Linked DNA regions of Homo sapiens: all the other regions are linked to region 3. The links come from fine-mapping of genetic effects on plasma protein levels. A gene starts in region 3. Each other region holds a variant in brackets. All regions are shown on one strand. Distances are between the middles of the regions.

Region 1 (5,142 bases), 23 kb before region 3:
CTGCTCAGCCCTGGGCCCTGCAGAAAGGGAGGTAATGGGGCCAGAAGTGACCCCTCCAGCCGCGTTGCCATGGCAGCCCTGGGGCCTAGAGAAGGGGTTTCCAGCCAGTGCCCCAGGCCTGGCTGGGCTGGGGGTCCTGTCTTTGAGCTGGAGCCCTGCCAGGGATCCAGACTGCCTCGGCCAGGCCATCCCTGCCTCTGAGCATGTCCAGATGTGGCCTAATGGAAGCCACATGCCCGGCTCCCTGGGCTGGGAAGAAGGGGTCTGACGTCTGTTGTCACTCAAGGGGCTTCGTGAGGGCGGCTTTTCCCGCAGGGCTGGCACAATGGAGGGCCACACGGAGGAACCCTCGGGCAGGGCGGCCCTCAGGAGGTCGGAGGTTCCCAGAGCAGCTGGGGGCAGCCCCTGACCTGCAGAAGGCCTCTCAGCACAGCCTGTGGCCCCAGGAATGCATGGCAGGAAAGGGGCCCCTTCCTCAGGGCCTCACACACGCAGGTTCTGCAGGGCAGGAGTATCTGAATGCTGTGATGCTCTGGCTAACAGGGAAACCCTAAAACTCAAATGACTGCTGCTGTCCACTGCAGACGCCCCTCAACACGGTGACTCTGTTAGGCACCGTGCTCGGCGCTCTGTGATTGCTGAGCCGCGTAGTCCTCACAACAGCCCTCTTAGTTTACAGGAGTGGAGAGTGGGCTACAGGGAGCTCAGGCCACCGCCTGTGGACACAGGGGCAGAAAGTGGTGGAAGCAGGCTTCTCTTCTGCCTTCTTCAGCTCTTCAACCTCTCACAGTGGTTCCCTTTTTTTTTTTTTTTTTTTTTTGAGTTTCACTCTTGTCGCCCAGGCTGGAGTGCAATGGCACAATCTTGGCTCACTGCAACCTCTGCCTCCCAGGTGGTGATTCTCCTGCCTCAGCCGCCCAAGTAGCTGGGATTACGGGCGCCTGCCACCACGCCAGACTAATTTTGTATTTTTAGTAGATTTGAGGTTTCACCACGTTGGCCAGGCTGGTCTCGAACTCCTGACCTCTGGTGACCCACCCACCTTGGCCTCCCAAAGTGCTGGGATTACAGGCGTGAGCCACCACGCCCGGCCCACCCTCTGACAGTGGCTTCTGAGTGCCCAGCATGTGCACAGGAGCCGGTAAGATGCTGAATGTACAGGGTTCACAAAACCCAGCAGAGACCCTGACCTTGGGGAGCTTGGGGCTTTGAGGAGGAGATAGAGACCCCAGCAGTCACAGAGGTGTGATGTTCTGAGCAGTGATACGAGCTGAGGAGTGAAGTGGTGAGCCTCACTCAGGGGATCTGACTCCTCCTGGGGGTCAGGGAAGGCTCCCTGCAGGGAGTCTTGAGCTTCCACTTGAGCTGCAATGTAGAGGATGAGGTGATAAGTGGGCAGTGGTGAGAAGGGGGTGCTCCAGGCGGGGGAAACAGCACGTGCAAAGGCCCCTTAGCCAGAGGGAATTGAACTTGATTGAAAGGAAGCTCTGACTGGTGTGAGAAGAGGCTGGGGAGGGGCCGGCCGGAGGGAGCCATATAGGGCAGAAGGTGGCATGATCTGATTTGTGTTTGAGGCGCTCCCCCCAGGTGCGGGGCTGTCCCCTCTCACACTGACGGAGCTCTGGGCCTTTCCAATGTCTGTGGGTCTGTGAGGCCCCCAGATTCCCTAGGCTGTGGCAGCACAGGGTTATCCACCCAGATTAACCTGTTTGCTAGAGGACTCCTGAAGCCTCTCCTCTCCAGTGTTGGCCCACGGGGGTTTCAAACCTGCGTGGGGTCTTAGGAGCATCACCCCAGGTCCCCATGGAAGCTAGACCAGGCTTCTGGATCTGCAAGCCCCCAGCTCTTGTGACAGAATCACCCCCTGCAGGAGTTCAAGGCTCCTAAAGTAAGCAGGAAGGGGTCAGCCTCGTGGGGGCTGTGGCCCCTGCTTAGCAGCAGCGCCCTTTGAGGACGGCTCTTAGGTAGGCTCAGCGGACCATTCCCCTTCTCGCCACAGCTCATGGGGTCTTCAAATGGGGTGTCTGACTGTGCTGGGCTATGGAGGACCTGCTGGGAGCAGGCATGGATGGGCAAGAAGAGGCCTGGGCCGCCTACCAGCCTCTGCACAGCCTTGGGCCGGTCCCTATCTGAAGCCTGGGTGCCCTGGTCCTGGCTGCCTGCTCTGATGTGCCCGATGGAGTGTATTGAACTCTGTGGCAGGTGGCTTGGAGGATATAGGGTCAGGAGTGCAGGCTCCAGGGCCTTCCAGGCCCACTGCTCACTGGTTGTGTGACCTGAGCCTCCAGCACCACCCTCGAGCCCCAGTTGCCTCACTGGTGAAACAGCGTACATAGTAGTAAGCACTCGGTGCTGCTGGAAGGACTGATGGGAAGCTGCCTGACCAGCTCGGAGAGGGGCCTCCATGGAGTGAGGGTACAGCTGGTGTGGCCCCACCACCTCCACTGGCCCAGCATGGCCAGCGCCCCTGCTCAAATGGCCCACCCACCTCGCCTCTGTCCACGAGTTCACTTCTTTCTACAACACATGCTTGTGAGATTAGGATTTGCTGCAGACACTTAGAAATGGGAAGATGTCACATAAAATTCAGCTTTCTGGCTGACATTTGTTGAAAAATTGGCAGAGGTGGCCATGCTAGGCTCCTAGGCCACAGGCCAGCCACCGGGGCAGCTGAGAAGAGACCGCCCTTCGCATTTCCTGCCAGGACACGTGGGGGCCTACCGGGCTGAGGCAGGAACCCTCCTCAGGGCCCCCAGCTCTGAAGATGTGCACCTTCTGGACCCTTGACCACTACCGCAGCCCTACCAGGGGGCCCAGCACCTCCCACAACAGGAACCCCACTCCCACCCACCCATCCCATCCCAAGAGCTGGGCCTGGGAGAAGATGCACTCTCACAGCCTCCTGCCCAAACCAAGGGCCTGGGGTGGCCACCCTAGGCCTGGCCCCACAGTCCAGCATCCCCAGCCCCAGGCAGAGACCTGGGGCAGCGGCCAGAGCCCAAGGCTGCCCTTCCCACACAAAGTGCCCTGAAGGAACCAGGACAGGGTCTTACCTTCAGGGCTACTTCTGGGGATAGAATGGACAGAGTTGGGGTCTGTGTCCTCCTCCACGTGGGAATGGGGCAGAACTTGCGGCTTCCTGGGCACTTC[T/C]CGGGTGGGTGGGATCCAGGCTGCATCAGGCAGTGATGTGGACAGGATGTTGTGGGGGCTGGGCTTGACTGGGTCCCTGGGAGAGCCAGGCACGGCCTGAGTTGGGACGAGAGCAGCCTTGCCCAGGCTCGGTGCATGCGTCACGCCCTCCGGCCCAGTGCTGCGGGACGTGGCTTGGGCATCCAGGATGAGGTTCTCTTCAGGCCTTGCCCCAGCTTCTGCCCTTGCCCCAGCTTCTGCCCTCTCCTCCTGGATAGGAAGACTGGGTCCAGCTGGGGCTGTAGTGGGCAGCCCATCCAGCCCCCTGTGGCCACCTGCTGCCAGCTGCTCAGTGACAGCCATTTCCTCTCTCTCCTCCTCCTCCTCTTCTTCCTCCTCACTGTCCTCGGTCACTCTCCTAGCTTTGGCCTGCACTGGGGCTGGGGGACCCAGGGCAGCAGCCGCTGTGGGCCTGGGGAGGACAGCTGGCCAGGGGGGTGCCTGGATGGTGGACAGTGGCTGACTCCCACCTCCCAGAGCAGCTGGGGGGCCCCCTGCGCCTGCCTGGACTGCACCCGCCTGGACCTCACCCCCCAGGGCTGTTGCTGCTTCCACCTCGGCCACCTCCTGGTCATAGCTGTAGGGGTCTTCGTAGTGTCGCTCGGGGTCACCCTCCTCGGCATCTGAGAAGTTCCCGTGGCAACCGGGGAGCTGGTAGCAGATGAGCTCTCCACCGGCGTCAGGGCAGTGGCAGGCCCGGCAGGGCGGCAGGTGAACAGTGTGGCCAGCGGCGTACTTGTGGCCCGCGTGGACGCAGCCCACCTGGCCGCACTGTGGGCAGCTGTCAGCCACCACTACAGCCTCGATGCAGTTGGGCGGCAGCTCCGGGCACAGCATGAACTGGCAGCTGATCTTGCCGCCGCCTGGTGGGCAGGAGCACTCAGTGCTCCCGAAGTCCACAAAATAGGACTGACCGGCGGGCACGCGGCCGCGCACGAAGCCACCCTGTAGGCAGTCATAGTACTGGTAGCCCTCGCAGGCGCAGCCCTGCTGCACACACGTGGCACAGCAGGCACCCGGCTCCAGCGCCTCCTCAATGCAGTTCTCCAGCGGCGGGCACTCCACGCCCGTGCAGTCCTGCCGAGGGGCAGCTGCGGCCACGCTGGGGCCCAGGGCCAGGGCCAGGCCCAGAGCAAGCCAGGCTCCTGCAGGCTCCCAGAGCAGCACCATGGTCCAGGCCAGCCCAGGACGGTCCCCTCTCCTGTAAGACCCTGGGGGAATCAGAAAGGAAGCCTGTCAGTACTGGGTGTGCACACACAGACACGGTGCACACCGGCACGCACGCGGGCAGGGGCCCAGCCTCAGCCACCTCACACGCATGCGCTCATCCCCAGGAGCACACTAAGCACTGCCTCACACACACACACAGGCTCCGCCACACATGGGTCAGATCACACACAGGTGAGTGTCTAGTCGCTGGGCGCCACAGGTGTTGACCTGGAGTCGCTGACAGCCCCACACGTGTTTGCTGGGCCACTCCATCCTCCATCCTCACCTGCATTCTGAGGCAGGTCCTCTGAGTGAGCCCTCGTGCCCACACACACACATGCACAGCCCCACACCCACTCGGTCACACTCACCAGGGCACGTCAGGCAATATGCCCCATAATCCTCTATGCAGTTACACACGCTGTCTCACCCACAGCATGCCCACGTGCCAGTACACACCCTGGGCGGTCTCACACGCACAGTCCCACGCACACACCCGACCAATCCCTCCCCCCAGATCCTTGACTCAGTCCCCAGCCACGCACCACAGCTGCTGGCCAGAAAATACAGTCAGTGGGGAAATGCTAGGCAAGAACAAGACGCCCCCTACAGCCCCAGCCCGCAGACCCTAGGACTCAGGAACACACCTCTGAGACCCTCGGGACTGCAGGCTTAGCCCCAGGGGACGCTCCTGTCCCCCTCCCCAGTAGCACTGGCAAATGCATCCTGATGCCTTGCTGTCCC
Region 2 (5,123 bases), 90 kb before region 3:
TTTTTTGTATTTTTAGTAGAGATGGGGTTTCACCATATTGGCCAGGCTGGTCTCGAACTCCTGACCTCAAGTGATCCACCCGCCTTGGCCTCCCAAAGTGTTGGGATTACAGGCGTGAGCCACTGTGCCTGGCCTCCTATGCCTTTTCTAAGAGAACTGGGGAAGGGAGGTTGCTGGTAAGACTGCTTTTCTTTTCTTCTCCACATCACCTCGCCTTCCTCCTTTCCTATCTGCTGCAGTGGCCCCAGGACCAGGGCTGCAGCTGCAAGTGCTGAGGTAGCAATGACTCCTAGGCAGGAGGGTGCACCTCTAGCTCCAAAGCTTCATGCCAGAGCTCCTGAGGGCTGATGGAGTGGATGGTGCCTTCACCCCATCCGGAAAAATCAGGGCTGCTAGTGAGGGCAGGCACATTGCCTGGTGGTGGAGACAGCCCACTAGTTCTACACCTGTGAAGCCCCATCCTACACCAACCGGAGTGGACTGTCAGGGAGGCACTTGCTAGGCTGGCATTGCTTCTGACAATCCGGCCCAACAGCATGGCCGAACCTCATGGCCCTTCCAAAGGTGGAAATACCTGGATACAAATGGAGAAAAGGAGGAACCGGAGCTGAGGGTAAAGCAACCAGTACGTGGGTTATGTAGTGAGGGAAATCCTTTTTTTTTTTTTTTTTTTTTTTTTTTTGCGACGGAGTTTCGCTCTTGTTGTCCAGGCTGGAGTGCAATGGCACAATCACAGCTCACCACAACCGCCGCCTCCCTGGTTCAAGCAATTCTCCTGCCTCAGCCTCCTGAGTAGCTGGGATTATAGGCATGTGCCACCACACCCAGCTAATTTTGTATTTTTAGTAGAGATGGGGTTTCTCCATGTCGGTCAGGCTGGTCTTTAACTCCCAACCTCAGGGGATCCGCCCACCTCGGCCTCCCAAAGTGCTGGGATTCCAGGCGTGAGCCACCGCGCCCGGCCGGGAAATCCAATTTTACGTGAATCCTACATTACAGTACTACCTTAAGAGCGGCGTGGAGGGCATCGTCTCAGCTCAACTACACTAGATGCCTGAAAGGGTGACGCCAAGGCCGCCTCTGCTTTTGGAACTTGACAAGGTCGAATGGCAGCCTGCAAACCTGAGTGGCCTCACCCTGGGGGACATCTGCTGATCTGATGTGGTGATGGACTAGATAAACTGCTATGACTGAGTGGGACTCCGGTCTTCCTTTTTAGGTGACATCCACCAGACTGCAATATGGTCCTACCTGGCACGGTTGATAAGGTTATAACGTTGATGGTGATGGCAAATGTATTGAAACCCTGAGTTCCAGCCTCCTCAGGATGTAGCAACGATGGAGAATGACACCTGCGGAAGAGCTAGGTGGAGCCAACCCCGGGCTAACGCCTGCACACGGTGGTTCTTTACATGCTTCATAGGCACGGGCAGCCCTGCCACAAGGGAGGAAGCAGGCAACGCTGAAGGAGCTGCCCAGACAAACGTGACTATTCCACTGCGAGAACGCTGGGGCCGGGGCCGGGGGTGGCCTGCAGGGTGAGCTCTCGGCCCCCAGAACGTCCTGGCTGGCACTGGAGTACCAGCGTTTTCAGGGGCTTTGCTGCCTCAGTTCTGACCTCTGCGAGGGACTGGAGACTTAGGGCCAGCCACGCTGACAGCCAGGTGGTCAAGCTCCCAGACACACCTGGACCCCAAAGGTGCCCTGTTCAGCTCTATTCTGTTGTGCTGCATCCTGAGGACACGGGAGCTCCGTGACTGGGCTCTCCTGGACTCTGCTCTAGAATTCATCAATGACTTTAACCTGCTTCCTTTCACCATAAACTGTCTGAGTCATGCAGGTGAATTAATGAGCCTGAGGGTGGATGTAAGGACCCCCAAACCTGTAGCCCATTGCTCAGACGTGAGGGTGGTCCTAGGGATGCCTGAGCTTGTTTCTGGTGTGCAGTTCTTGGTCTGCAGTGAGGGTAGTCTTGTAGGGGCTATTCCCTGAAGCTGCAGTTTGCCAAACTTGCCGGCATGGAATTCTAGAATCACCTTAGAAACTCTAAGGTCCGGAGAGAAGTTGTTCTCCAAGACCCTCCGTATGGATGCGCTGGGTGCCAAGTTCATTTTACTGGCTCGATGGCCTGTGCAGGAAGAACAGCTGGAGCCCCTGTTCACAGGGGAGACCAGTGAGGGGAGGCGAAGTCACTTGCCTGAGGTCCCAGAAGGAGTAACCGGGGCTGGGTAGGAGCAGGAACGGCTGCTGCCAGCCAGGGGTGTCCCTAACCTGCCTGTCCTGTTGAATGGAGCCTGTCACCTACTGGTTCCCGCTGGTGGGGACTGTGCACCACAAAGGTGCCGGATCTAGTTTTTCTGAAAATCAGCAAAATAGAAGGAACAGAGACAGCCCGGACAGGGACAGGGAAGACCTGGCTTCTGCTGCACCCTTGGGGATGGGGGCCGGCGAGGAGCAGGGACAGAGGGCCCCCACCGCAGGCTTCCGGCAAGAGGCTCCCAAACACCTGTCCTTTAGAAGCCTGAGCAAGTCGCCACCTCTTAACACTGAGAGAGTTTGTGTTGAGGAATGAGAACATCTGGCCATCCCGGGCCACGCGCCCAGAAGGCGGCCTTGCTGGAGCCAAGTGTAGGCGCCCCCTTCACACAGGGCATGTGCTGCCCAGCGCGCCCCGACAGGCCTGCTTCCCTCCACCCACAGTGAGAAACACTTTCTACCAAAAGCCAGAGCTAGCGTGCCCACGCATAGGTGCACACGCCCCATGTACTGTGGTTTGGTGAAGCAGTTCTTCTCTTTACAGGGTGTGAAGCACTCATATCTCATCTGCTCTATTCTACGTCATTTTAAAAGTGCTGGCTGCCGCCCCCTATATTTAACTCTAGACCCACGGAGCCCGAGCAGGGTCATCAGAGCTGGGTCCCGACACCTGCTCTGATGCTCGCTGTGGGCTGGGGGCACATCGCTTCCGCTCTCAGGGCCTCAGTTTCCCAGGTTCCTTCAGGCTCCTGCCCAGGTCTACTGCCTGACCTGACAGCTCAGCAACAGGGGCCAGGACAAGTTCTGGACAACATCCAAGTGACAGGCCATCAGTGGAGGTCTTCATGGGGGGAAGGCAGAGGAGGGAGGAGGGAGGAGGAAGGAGGAGGGAAAGCTGAAGTGGTAAAAGCAGAATAAAGAGCCTGGTCAGTGACTGATCACACTGGGGTGCCCTCATCCCAAAGTGAACTTCAGGTTCGGGGCTCGTTGAGAAGGACATCAAGGTCTTCATCAATGAATTGACATGCTGGCCAGGCCATAGAGCCCTGTGACATCTGGACAACGTTGTCAAACTCTGAACACTTTACAAAAGTAAAGGGACCAAGAGGCGTTTTCCTCTGTTACTTTATAACCCTTTCATACTAGTTGAACTTTTTTTTATATAATGTACATGTACTACTTTATA[G/A]TTAAACAAAAAACTTTAAAATGATTTTTTAAAAAAGAAAAGAATTAATCACAGTGGAACATGAAATGGAATGTCAACTTTGGGGACGGGTCATCCAGAGGAGTCCAAGAGCCCCAACATGGTCGCGTGTCTCTGGTCCTCAGGTCATCACCCAGCCTCACCCACAGGGCACCCGCCACGGCCGTGGCCCACCGTGCAAGCTTCCACTTGGTGCCTGCGTGGGAACGCACCACCTGCCGTGGAACTTCCTCCTGCGGGGCAGAGGAGGGGTCCAGAAGCCACAGGAGTCAAGTCAGCAAAATTAAGTTAATTTACAAAGTTATAGTAAAAACCACAATAGTGACCCAGTCCCTCCCACGCAGTGTGAGCCCTGGGCTGCGCCACACCCGCAGGTGGCCCGTGCTGGCACCTCACAGGGCAAAGGTGGTGAAGAAGATGTGCATCTTGGCCAGGAAGGTGGTGACGGAGCCCTGCCTCCAGAGCTTCATCTCCACGTCCAGGGCAAAGTCCCGGGGCTCCAGCACGGCCCGCTGCAGGTAGACCACACCCGTGTAGGCATTGAGCCTGCGCGTGCCAAAGTAGCCCTCCTCATTGCCCTTGATGATGTTCAGGGCGATGGTGTCCCCCGTGAAGGCTGGCGCGGGGCCAATGCGGAAGATATGCGCAGGCACCAGGAGGCCCGTCTGGAAGTTGAGCTGGTAGTGCGTGATGCGCGCTGGCGAGTTCTGGCACTCCAGGAAGTCATGGCACGTGGTGCGCTCGCACTTCCTGCAGGGAGGATAGGCCGGGTCACCCACAGCTCGCCCACCCCCCTCATCCCCAGACGGGGACACAGATGGCACAGCTCAGCGGCAGGATCAAGGGCCAGCTCTCTCCCTAATGGCCGGGAAGCCTCAGGCAAGTCCCCTTACGTCCCCTGGGTCTCAGTTTCCTTGCCTGCGAGATGAGGTTAATAAAACCTTCACCGGCTCACTGGAATGGGTGAGTTTAGCATGGCACTGGCCAGGCTCGTTAACAGCTCTTACCTGTCCCCATGCTCCTTTCTTCCTCCCTCCTGCCATCCTCCCATTCTTCCTTTCTCCTTCCTTTTCCCTCTCCCCTTCCCTTCCTCCTCCTTCTCCCTTCTTCCCAGTGCACCCAGTGTCCCTCCCAGGGTCCCTCCCAAGTGCCGGGCCGTGTGGCTGGTGGCAGAGTAGCGGTCTGTCAGTTCTGAGGTTAAGTGAGGTTAAGGGGCTGCCGCTGGCACTTCTGATACACTGAGCTGGGGAGTGGCATGTCACAAGCAGCCTTGTGGAGGGGCTCATGTGATGCGGAGCTGAGGCCTCCTGCCCAGAGCCCCATGAGCAGTGGCAGGATCCCGCACCCCGGACAGGCAGCCCCTGAGATCCTGAGCCAGACCACCTAGCTACACCACTCCCAGGCTCCTAGCCCTCAGACACTGCGTGACAAAGAGTAAGTATCTGTTGTATTCTGGTGCTAAATGTTGGTTGGGATAACTGGTCACACAGCAGTAACTACCATGTGTGTGTATGAGGAAGAGGGCTGGTGTTTTCTGTGTGTCTTTTCCCCTTCCTTCTCTCAACCCTGAACTCTCTAAAAGCTACTTATATTTGTTTTGGTCACCTAGCCCACAGACCCAGCAGTCAGGGGCTGGGACGAGAGGGAGGTGATCAAGGCAGGC
Region 3 (5,142 bases):
TGGGCTGAACCCCAGCTCTCCCCCTTGCCTGCTGGGAGGCCCTTTCTCTACCTCCCCTTCCCCGTCTCTTAAATAGGTGCAAGAGTTCCACCCTGCAGGAGGGATGTCGGGATCTGGGAAGAAAAGTGATGAATAAAGCCTGCCTCGGAGAATGCTCTCTGGCATGAGCTCTTGCTTCACGGGGTCCCCATACCACCGTCCCCCACAGCCTAGCAGGAAGTGTCTGCCACCATCACAAAGATGCCCTGTGGCCCAGGGCCCTGGGCACCACTCATTGCTTCAACGACTAAGGCCTCGAAGGGTAGGAGGCCCGCCCAGGGCTTCCCCAGCCATGCATGGAGGACCAGCCTGGGCCTATGCTTGAGGCGGGCAATGGAGCAAAATCAGCCCAATGCATGCAGCAGTCACAGCCGCACAAAGGCCACGCAGGCCAGGCAGGAGCTGAGAAGGCATGAGAGGGCCAGGTGGGGACGGGGACCAAACAGCGCCCCTGCCCCATCCCCTGGGTTGGGGGTGGGCAGCACCAGCCAGGAGATGCAGATCCTGAACTACCAGACCTTGTGACTTTTCAAGAGAAGACGGAAATCCGGACTTTTACGTGAAAACTGCCAATTTGTAAATGCAGGCAGCTAATTAATTTTTTAAAATAATAATAACATGGTGAGAGCCAAACAAAACATGCAGGGCCAGCCACAGCCGGGGCTGGCAGGTTTGTGCCTCCAGAATAAGATTCTTTGACTTCATCCCCTGCTCACCCCCATCACACAGCTCAGCTGCAGAAGGGGAGGGCGGGAAGTCAAGGGTGCACCCCAGGGGAGTAGCTCCCCCTCCCTCTCTTCCTCCTGCTGGGGAGTCTTCACCCCATTTGGCATATGGGGAAGTTAAGGCCCAGAGCCCCTATCAGCCACAAACACACACCAGCTCCCAATCCATGCCAGGCTGAGGGAACACTTCTCAGCTGCCACCCAATTCATCAGGGCTCCCTCTGGGAGGGCCCGGACCAGCATCTCAGGGGCATCAGGGTAGACACAAGCACCCAAACCATCCTGTTTGACTTCCCTTTTTCTCTTTTTGGCCTGTCAGGGGACGCCTGCTGGCTCAGGCCTGCTTGGGACTGGCCCAAGTGATCACTGCAAAGCTGATATGGGCAACTCCTTGTGGCAGCAAAAAAGGGAGGGAGGGCACCCCTATTTCGGAGACTGGAGCAGGGGAAGGGAGAGAGGATGCACGGAGGTGAGGAGTCAGGCCCAGCCTGAGGCTGAGCCACCCCCATGCTCCCCACAGCCACCCAGGTCCCATGGTAAGCAGCCTCTGTCAGGAGGAACCACCTCCCTCCTCCAAAATCGGCTCCCCACCCCCTAGGACAGGGGAGGACTGCCCATGGAGTGCCAGGGGGGCTGGGACTGTGAAGTCGTGGGGGTCTGTGACTCGTATGTGAGACTCACAGTGTGTGGCACTCCCAGTGTTTGTGATTCCAGGTATTTGAGGAGCACACGCATGTGAGAGACACATGTGTGATACATATGATGGAGATATGCATGTGATAGCTACCCCTGTGTGGCGGACGTGTGTGCGTGTCAGAGGGCAGTAAGGGCACATGTGTTTATCAGAGACACAACTGTCTGCTAGAGGCATGCCTCGGAGGGGTGCCAATGTGCAAGGCATGTGTGTGTGGAGCATTGTGTGCTAAGGGGACGTGAGATGAGTGTGAGAGATTCTGGCCTGGGGGAGCTGGCGGGGTGAGCATGGGGCTGGGAGAGGGAGGATGTGGTGACAGGCAGGGTGGGCGCGCCAATGCAGAGCGTGCAGAAACTTCTGCTTGTGTGAGTGCGTGTGTGGCGGTGAGTGTGACTTGGGGGTGATGGAGGGGGTAGTGTTAGACCAGGGACTCTAGTCTTCTTTCCCCGAGGGGGTTGACCCGGCCCTCTGGACTGGAGGGGCGGCAAGGTCCTGCGGTCGGGGTGGGGGTGGGCAGTGGGACCAGAGGGGATGACTGGTGGGAGCCGGCCCAGGGGGGAGAAGTGAAACCCAGAGCGGAGGAAGCTGCGGACCTGGGGTGGGGGAACCCGCCCGCGGACCCCTGGCCCCCACCCCGCGCCGGCCTCTGTGCCCGCATCTGTACACTGGGTCGCGGCGCTCGCGGGCCGTCCCCGCGCTGGGACCGGGAGAGCGAGACCCGGTCGGACCGGCGGCGCGGGTGGAGGCGCGGGCAGCCCGCGAGGCGCGTCCGAGGGTCCGCCGAGCCGTCGGTGCGTCCGAGCGCCCCCGAGTCCTGAGCTGCGAGGCGCGGACCGACGGGGATGAGTCCGGGCGGGAGGGGCCGCGTGCACTCACCGCGGGGCACTGCGCTCGGCGTCCGTCCGTCCGTCCGCCCGGCCGTCGGCGCGTCGAGAGCCCGGGCGGCCCCTGGCTGTGTGCGCGCGGGGCGGGGCGGAGGCGCGAGAGGCGGGACCAGCCGGCCCCCGGCCCCCTCCCCTGACTCCGCCTCCGCCTCCGGGGCGGGGTCTCGGCCGCCCGCCGGAGAGGGGGCCGGGCCGGCGCCGCTCGCTCAGAGCCCAGACTCGCTGACCCGGCTCCTAGAGGCCGCCCGGCGCGCTCGCTGCGGAGCCCGCACCCTCCCTGCGCCCGGCCTAACCTCTGAGTGCCAGACCTGGCACTGCTGCCCACAGGGCAGGGCCAGGGGTTGGGGTCCGGCCACCTCAGCCAGCCTGAGCCTCAGTGATCACCCCTGGAAGATGGGCCCAGCAGCCTTGGGCACATTGTGAGGGCCTGAGGGGCCCGGCTACAAAACTGCCCAGAGGCCAGGCCCTGCCTCCCACCCGCCTTGCTTCCTACCCTGGGGGCCTGCCTGCAGCCCCACTGCTGCTGCATGTGCCTGGGCAGACGGTACTGAGCCCCCAGCTTTGGAACAGGTTCAGTTTGTCCTTTTCCTCAGCCCAGCTCTGATGCCTGTGACCACTGTGTGACCCCCGGGGTGTCTCTTCCCCCAGCCCACACCGATCCCTTTCTGGGTCTCTTTCGGGGTCTCCATCTCTGATCTAATGTCATCTCTCTGTCTCCCTTGGTTTGTCCCTCTTGGTCTCTGCATCTCCCTCTGACTTTATCTCTTGGTCTCTGTGTCTCTCTGAGTCTCTCCCATCCCTGTCCAGAGACGTATGGCCTGGTGGTCACCACCTCACATCTGAGCAGCAGCCATGGGCCCAAAGTGTGCCTGCCCCCACCCCCAGGGGTCTCCCTGCAGCCCAGGACAGGGGTGAGGCAGCCAAGAGCAAAGGCACAGGGCAGGGCAGCTGCCTGCCCAGGGCCGCACAGCAGAGAGGAGGTGGAGCCAGGAAGGGCCCATTGGCTTAGATGGGGCCACCCACAGAGAAGCCAGGAGCGGATGGAGGGGCCAAAGCCTGAGCTGGCAGCCTGTGCCTGGCCTGCCCCAACTTGTGTCTAACCCCAGGCAGGTGCCTTCCCTCTGGGCCCGTTTCCCCATTGGAGCTCTGTGCTTGCTGTTCCCTCAGGGCCTTTGCCATTGCTGTTCCCTCTGCCTGGGATGCTCTTCCCCAGATCCACCGTGGCTGACTCATCCCTGCATTAAGATGCAGCTGAAATCCCACCACCCCCAGAGAAGCCCTCCCTGAGACCCCAGCAGAGGTAGCAACTACCACTCTCCACCCTGGGACTCGGCCGCACTGTTATTACAGTACTTGTCACTGGCTGATTTCTCTTATTCATTTATAAATGACTATAGGTAGGATCACCTGGTCATTAAGAAAGTCACCACACACCAGCTGTGTGACCTTGGGCAAGTTACTTCACCTCTCTGGGCTTTATTTCCTCAACTGTAAAATGAACATAACGACATCAAAGCCTATCTTATAATGTTATTGGAAAGATCAAATGAACCGAAATGAGCCAAACCGAAAGTACAGATGCTCCTCGATTATAATGGGATCATGTCCCCATAAACCCATCGTAAATCGAAAATATAGTAAGTTGAAAATGCATTTCATCCACCTAACCTACAGAACATCATAGCTCAGCCAAGCCTACCTTAAATGTGCTCAGAACACTTCCATTACTAGCCTACGGGTGGGCAAAATCATCTAATACAAAGCCTATTTTATAATGAAGCATTGAATATCTCATGTAACTCATTGAATACTGCACAGAAAGTGAAAAACAGAATGATTGCCTGGGGATTCCAAGTAGGGTTTCTCCTGGGTGTGTACCACTTTCTCAACATCCTAAATTCAAAAAATCCTAAATCGAACCATCGTAAGTCAGGGATTATCTGTACTTTGGATGGGACTTGACCCAAGGGAGTGCTCAGTAAATATCTGATGAGTAAATGACAGATTGAATCCTTCCTCCTGTGGGGGAAGGAGGGGCAGTGGCCTGGGGTGATAGAGACCCTGGGCAGCTGCTAATGAGGCTCCCTTCCCCAGGCCTGGGAGGAGAGGCACTGAGCCAGATGCAGCTCACTCTGCAGCCCAGGGAGCCCAAGGCCTGGCCCGCCTTCCACAAGATAAAGTGGAGACACTTCTCCCGTCCTGTTATCTGAGCCGGAGATGCGGCCAAAGCGGCTGTCCCTTCAGAGCCCTTCCAAGACTGTTATCGCAGACAGAGCACGCATCACCCACCAGGAATTTGGGGCCCAGGGCCTGGCTGAGAAATGGTTGGAGGAAGTCAGGCTGATAAGGCCTAGACAGAATGATCACAGTGGGCAGCGAAGTTATTTACATCAGTGACAATCTCACCAGCTCCCTGGGCACTGAGGCGCCAGGGCCAGCAGGCATGAGGCTCACTTGTCCCACCTGTGCAGCCTGGATTGGGAAGAGAAGCCTTGCTGAGCTTCCTGGGTCTGCATCCTCACTGGGTAGCCTTGGGGAGGCTGCCTACGTTGGAGCATGGGTTCTGGGACCCAATGGCTTTGATTTAAATCCACATCCTCCCTGTATGACCTTCAGCAGGTGGCTTCAACCCTCTGGCCTCAGTGTCCTAGCCTATAAAGAAGTTCCTGCCTTATAGGATTGTTTTGAAGTTAAGATGCTTACAGCAGTGTCTGGTATATCATAAGCCCTCCATTAAATGTTTGTTGTTGTTAATCACAAACAACATTAACTTGAGCTGTTTGGATGAGAAAAGAAATTT
Region 4 (5,142 bases), 31 kb after region 3:
GGAGGCTCCACCCCATTTTACAGATAGGGAAACTGAGACTCAGAGAGAAAAGGTAACTGGCTCAAGACTAACAACAAGCAAGTAGCAGAGCCAGGGAGGGGCCCAGGTCAGGGGCTGGGGAAGACCAAAACAAGATGAGGCCTGAAGTGGGGAGAAGGCATCCAAAATACCAAAGCTCTTCCCTGTCCTCAGTCTCCCAGGCTTCTAGCCATGGCCACCCACCACTTCTGGAAGGGGCCTGCTCTCTCGTGCCCCTGGGCTTTTGTACATGCTGTTCCTTCTGCTTAGAATGCTTAGCTCAAACGTCTCTTCCTCCAGGAAGCCCTCTTGGGCTGGAATAGCTCCTCAGGCCGAAAGCCCCTGAGCTTTCAGAGCACTGAGTTTGCTGGGCTGCTCAAGGGTGGGCTAGAAGCTCTGGGTCCAGACACTTGGAGGCTCTGCAGCCAGTGGACCTCTCTAGGAGGAAGAGAAGCTGATGGCTTGATTCTTGTCGGAGCTAGAGGACTTGCAAGCTAGCATGGAGCTCCACCCACGCTCTCCATGTTCCTGCAGCTGAGACAGGGGCTGCGGCGCTCTGAGGTCCATTGGGGTCGCTGTGGGTGCCCAGCTCCCTGGCCCCGCCCCAGCCCCAGCAGTCTCTCCAATGCTCAGGCTGCAAATGGGTGGGGACTCCTTGGGGACCTCATCCCACCTCCTGACGGGGGACCAAAGAGGGAAAGGGCCCCCAATCTCAGCCTGGCTGCCTCTTGGGAGAGGAGATGGAGGAGAATGGGGGCAGAACTCCCGCAGTGCTGGGAGAGGCCTGCCAGGCAGCCAGGGAGGCAGGAGCGGCAAAGATGGGGTTTCGGGGTAGGGGCAGTGCAGTCTCAGCCTAATCCTGTGGGTATCGGGCGGCAGCATCAGCACCACTGCAGGAAGGCCTTCCCAACAGACGCACACACACCATTGTCCCACTCCCCAGACTCTCCGTGTTTATTTCCCTCTTGTCCTCATTAGAATGTCTTCCAAACAGTCCAGCCCTGTGTGTCATAGGACCTGGGGGCAGGACTTCCAGTAATGCTGGGGCCAGGGTATCAGAGGAGGGAAGGATACCCGGCCTCGCCCACCCCCAGAGGTCTGGAGTCATTGGGGAGGGAAGAGGGGACTCTGGAGACAAAGTCAGCCGAAGCACTGTCACCAAGCTTCCCCCAACCCAGGAAGCCGCCCCTCCAGGGTCAGCCTCGGGGAAGGGAAGGACCAGCCCTGAGGACAACTCAGGGCTGAGTGTGCGACACCCAAGGCACAGTGAACCCAGAGTCCTGGTCTGCGAGGCCCACGGGCTGGGGCCTGCCTGGGTCTCGCCAGCCCTCCCAAGGCCTTGGCCCCAGGCCCTGATGCCTGGTCCCAGCTCCCAGGCCCTAGACTCTGCCAACCCTGGCAAGATGCCCTCCCTCCCCTCAGCAGGCGCCGCCTTCCTCCCCTAGCCCAGGAATTGCCCCATGTGTCCAGCCACACGAGGAGCTCCCGGAGCTGGCTTTGTCCCAAGCATCCTTCCAAGCAGAACATATCTGCTCCCGCCTGCAGGCTTCCCCGGGCCTCCTGCCACCAACCCTTGGGGGGGCAGCCACAACATTTGTGCTGAGCCCAGGCCGACAGTCCCTGGCACTGCCTCTGCAGGCGGGTGCCCACTCTTCACCTCGTGCCCGAGAGACCTTGGTAGAACGCTGGCCGAGCCTCCACCCTGCACTTTCTCCTCCCCACCGTCTGGCCTACATTCCTGGGATGGACCCAAGTTCCCATAGGCAGAGAATCCATCCCTGGGCTGGCATCGTTTGGGAAAAGCATCAAGGACTTGCCTGGAGGTATCCAAGGACTCCGAAGCAAGTGCCAGAGCAAACCCCACCCGTGCCTGCTTCCTTCCTCGGGCCCTCTGGATGGATAAGGGGAGGTGGAGGAAGACAGAGGCACAGAGGTCAGACTGCAGACCAAGCCTTTGGTGTACATGACAGCCAAGCTTTACCTCTACGGCATTGTGTTGGTGGCATTACTGTCCCGCTTTATAGAAGAAATGGAGAAAAAGAGAGAAAGGACCTGCCCAAGGTCACACAGCCAGGAAGTGGCACAGGCAGGATTGAACCCAGGACCCATTTTCAATGCCCCTGAAACCAGCCTGCCATGCTTGGGGCCTGAGCCTCACTTGAGCGGGCATGGGAAAGATGGCAGCCTCCTTCCCATCAGTGGGTAGGGCTGGAGGTCGATGGTCTTGGACCCTGGATTCACAAGGACCTTGGAGCCCAAGTCTCCACGCAGTAGCTGCCTCCTCCTGGATCAAGTTTATTAGGCCCTATAACTGGGCTCCTGCCTCAGTTTCCCTTGCTGCCTAGAAGGCTGGGTCCTGCTGCTCCTCCTGGGTCCAGGAGACAGTTCCTGTGTGGCTGTCCTGACCAAGGTTACAGATCCCTCACCTTCCTTCTAAGGTGGCTCCTGGTGCTCACTAAGCACATGTGAGCACCCTGGCCCCGGACCCCACCATGTGCCTCCTGTCCTTTTTCCTGGGCCTTGAGTTGGAAGGGCAGCAGGGACAGAGGGCTCCGCCCCCGGTTTCTCAGTAGAGGTAAAAGATGGAGGCCGACAGAGGGTCAGGGCCTGCCTCAGGCCACCCAGTGCACAACCTGGGTCAGCCAGGGACTGTCCCAGGCCTGGGAGCTGCAGAAGCC[G/A]AGGGGAGGGTGGGGCTGCCGGGGGCTGGGGCTGATGACTGCTCTATCTTCCAAACAACAGCAGCAAGGGATGGCAGCCAGGCTGTCGGGACAGCCTGTTCCCATAGCGGGGCCCAGGGGAACCTAGCCTGACCACACCTCGGCTATGCCGGGCCTGACATCTGTGCAGCTGCATCGGGTGACCCAGGCTGGCCCTGTCCCTGCTCAGTTCCTCCGAGGGCTGCAGCATGGCAGTAGCCCAGGGCCCGCGGGTCCACCATTTCCGCGGCTGATGGGGCTGGGGGTCCTCCCCGAGGTCAGGGGACCCATCCCCTGCCTCTGGGGGCACCTGCCAGGCTGGTGGAAGAAAGAAGGGGAGAGAAAGCTGAGGAAGCAAGGGAGGGAGCTGCCACCCACTCCGCTTCTACTTCCTGCAGCTTCTGTGAGGGGCTGTCACCTCCGGAGGCTTGCTGTGGGTGCACATGGTACGCAGAGACAGTGGACGTGGCTGGCCCACACCAGGCAGCTGTGTGCGGCAGAACCCTCGCATCCAGCCTAGAGTGCCTATAGCAAGGGCTGCCATCAAGACCACTTGCTTCTGGGCATGGTTCTGAGTGCTTTACATGAGCTGACGCATTTATTCCTCACAGCAACCCCAAGAGGCAGCTACTAATATTATCCCCATTTTATGGATGAAGTAAATGAGACTGGGGCGGTTAAGTCATTCACCTAAGGTCAAAGGAAAGTGGGCCCTGACCAGTGCCGTCCAGTTTATCCCAGTACCGGTACCCCTGTGGATGGAAAGGGTGAAGCCTGTTCCTCCCACGCCCACTGATGTCTCCTCCAACACCGCCCCCCGCCTCCCCCGCCTGGCCTGGCTGCCAGCAACTCCTTGGACGCTCCAGGTGGAAAAACAATTGTGGGGCTGGCTCGGGTGGCTGGAGCAGCCGGGAGCTCCAGGCTTGGTGTCCCACCTATGCCAAGCCGCCAGAGCAGGGTGGGGGATGGGAGCACTTGCTCAGGAGCAGGGTGGGGATTCAGAGGAGACGCTGGGGCCCACCAGGGATGGCAGAAGCAGGCCTCTACCCCGGCCTGGCCAAAGTCGGCTCTGGGCCTGCTCCCCACAGTCAGAAGGGCAGGGGGAGCCCCCCAGCAGGCACCAGCCAACTTCCCTCCCGACTGGAGCAAATGACTGAGTCTTTACCAAGCGCCTACTAAGCACCGCAGGCCCTGTTCCGGGGGTCGAGTCAGGGACAGACCCAATCCTGCCCCTTTACTGCCTGGCAGGAAGAACAGGCAAGGAAACACACAGTCTCAAGAATGCTTGCTTGTTTCAACTCCCTGGGGATCTCAGTTTGAGCTGAGGAAACTGGGGCTCTGGGAGACGAAGTGAATCGCCCAAGCACTCAGCAAGGCCGAGCTGAGATTCTGAGCCCTCGTGCCTGGGCTCTGAACTCACCCAGATCCCACCTTGGTGCCAGCTGCTTCTCATTGAGCACCTACTGTGTGCTGGGTCATTCCCAGGCCCGCCCGACCCTCCCAATGGCCCCCCAGGTGGGTATGGCCATTGCCATTTTAGAGAAGCGGTAGCCGAGGCTCCGAGTCGGGGAACCACTTGCTGAGAGTCACCTTGCTGGAAAGGGACCCCACCCCAGAGTGTCTGACCCCAGAGCCCACAGCCTCCCCCAGACTTTTTCTGGAAACTCCTGGCATTTAGGGGAGTGAGAAAGAGCTGTCCTGAGCAGGTCAGAGTGGTGTCAGGGATGCTGCCAGTGGGGCCACCTCCTACACTGGGGACAGCTGGGGGCTGGACCTTGGCTGACACTATCCTTTTACAATGATACGTTATTCATCTAGCTTAAGCCACACAGATGAGAACTCTCTAGATAATTTTGGTCTTTCCTTTTAGACAACAACACAGTTATAATTTAACTATTTTAAGAGGACATGAAGTCTACACAATGTCTTCTCTGCGTTAATTACCATGGTGAACCATTTTCAGGCCACAGACCAGTACAGTGAAGGTCTTGGTGCTCAGTGAGATAGGGAACGTTACTTGCACCTACACAAATGGCCCCAAACTGATATTTTGTTGTTATTCTTGTTCTTATGTCTGCATTTAACGGTTGTTCTGTCTCTCTCTTATTGTTGAGCTGTTATTTCTAAAAGCGCTAAGGGTTTGCTCTGGAAAGTAGAAAATAAGCTTGATGCATCTTGTGAGTGTCTGAGTTATCAATGGTTCTGCTGTGAGCAGAACTTAACAACAAAGGGAATTCACCAAAATAATAAATTACACCAAGTACTTATCGAGCTAGAGAAGCTCTGGGGACTCAAGGATTAAAATCAGGGTCTTGATTATGGCATGGTCACTAGCCTTTGCAGCAATTGTTTGCAAATTAGAAAAAGGCTCCACTTCTTCAAAATACTTTACTAGTGCCTACTAGAAAATTATTTTAATCAATACACA

Which allele goes with the higher level. Alleles are on the strand shown, and positions count from the first base shown. The strength of an association depends on the size of the effect and on how common the allele is. Not every link is listed here.
With allele T in place of C in region 1, the plasma level of the protein whose gene starts at base 2,418 in region 3 is higher (strong association).

Evidence for each region. PIP is the posterior inclusion probability: the model's chance that the variant is causal. Protein levels are from antibody-based Olink assays in UK Biobank. Linkage for the fine-mapping came from a reference panel and not from the study's own genotypes, which makes the PIPs less certain.
Region 1: its variant is fine-mapped to the plasma level of the FBLN2 protein (UK Biobank, PIP 0.96). The variant lies in the coding sequence of FBLN2. If it changes the protein, the assay may bind it differently, which can mimic a change of level.
Region 2: its variant is fine-mapped to the plasma level of the FBLN2 protein (UK Biobank, PIP above 0.99).
Region 4: its variant is fine-mapped to the plasma level of the FBLN2 protein (UK Biobank, PIP above 0.99).

Annotation. Positions count from the first base shown.
Region 1 is chr3:13,569,573-13,574,714 of GRCh38, reverse strand. FBLN2 (fibulin 2) reads right to left here. Exons shown (of 18, transcript NM_001004019.2): 2 at 3,054-4,400. The coding sequence starts at 4,359. Among named protein-coding and RNA genes, the nearest start is that of FBLN2, 23 kb to the right of the region's middle. RefSeq lists enhancers at 2,530-3,246, 4,851-5,142. The variant T/C (reference allele first, on the strand shown) is at 3,151.
Region 2 is chr3:13,636,649-13,641,771 of GRCh38, reverse strand. It overlaps FBLN2 (fibulin 2), which reads right to left. Exons shown (of 18, transcript NM_001004019.2): 18 at 3,368-4,210. The coding sequence ends at 3,853. Among named protein-coding and RNA genes, the nearest start is that of LINC00620, 12 kb to the left of the region's middle. The variant G/A (reference allele first, on the strand shown) is at 3,443.
Region 3 is chr3:13,546,401-13,551,542 of GRCh38, reverse strand. FBLN2 (fibulin 2) reads right to left here and starts at 2,418. Exons shown (of 18, transcript NM_001004019.2): 1 at 2,335-2,418. RefSeq lists enhancers at 1-446, 447-1,055.
Region 4 is chr3:13,515,110-13,520,251 of GRCh38, reverse strand. No RefSeq gene overlaps it. Among named protein-coding and RNA genes, the nearest start is that of FBLN2, 31 kb to the left of the region's middle. RefSeq lists enhancers at 1,091-1,980, 3,354-4,282. The variant G/A (reference allele first, on the strand shown) is at 2,697.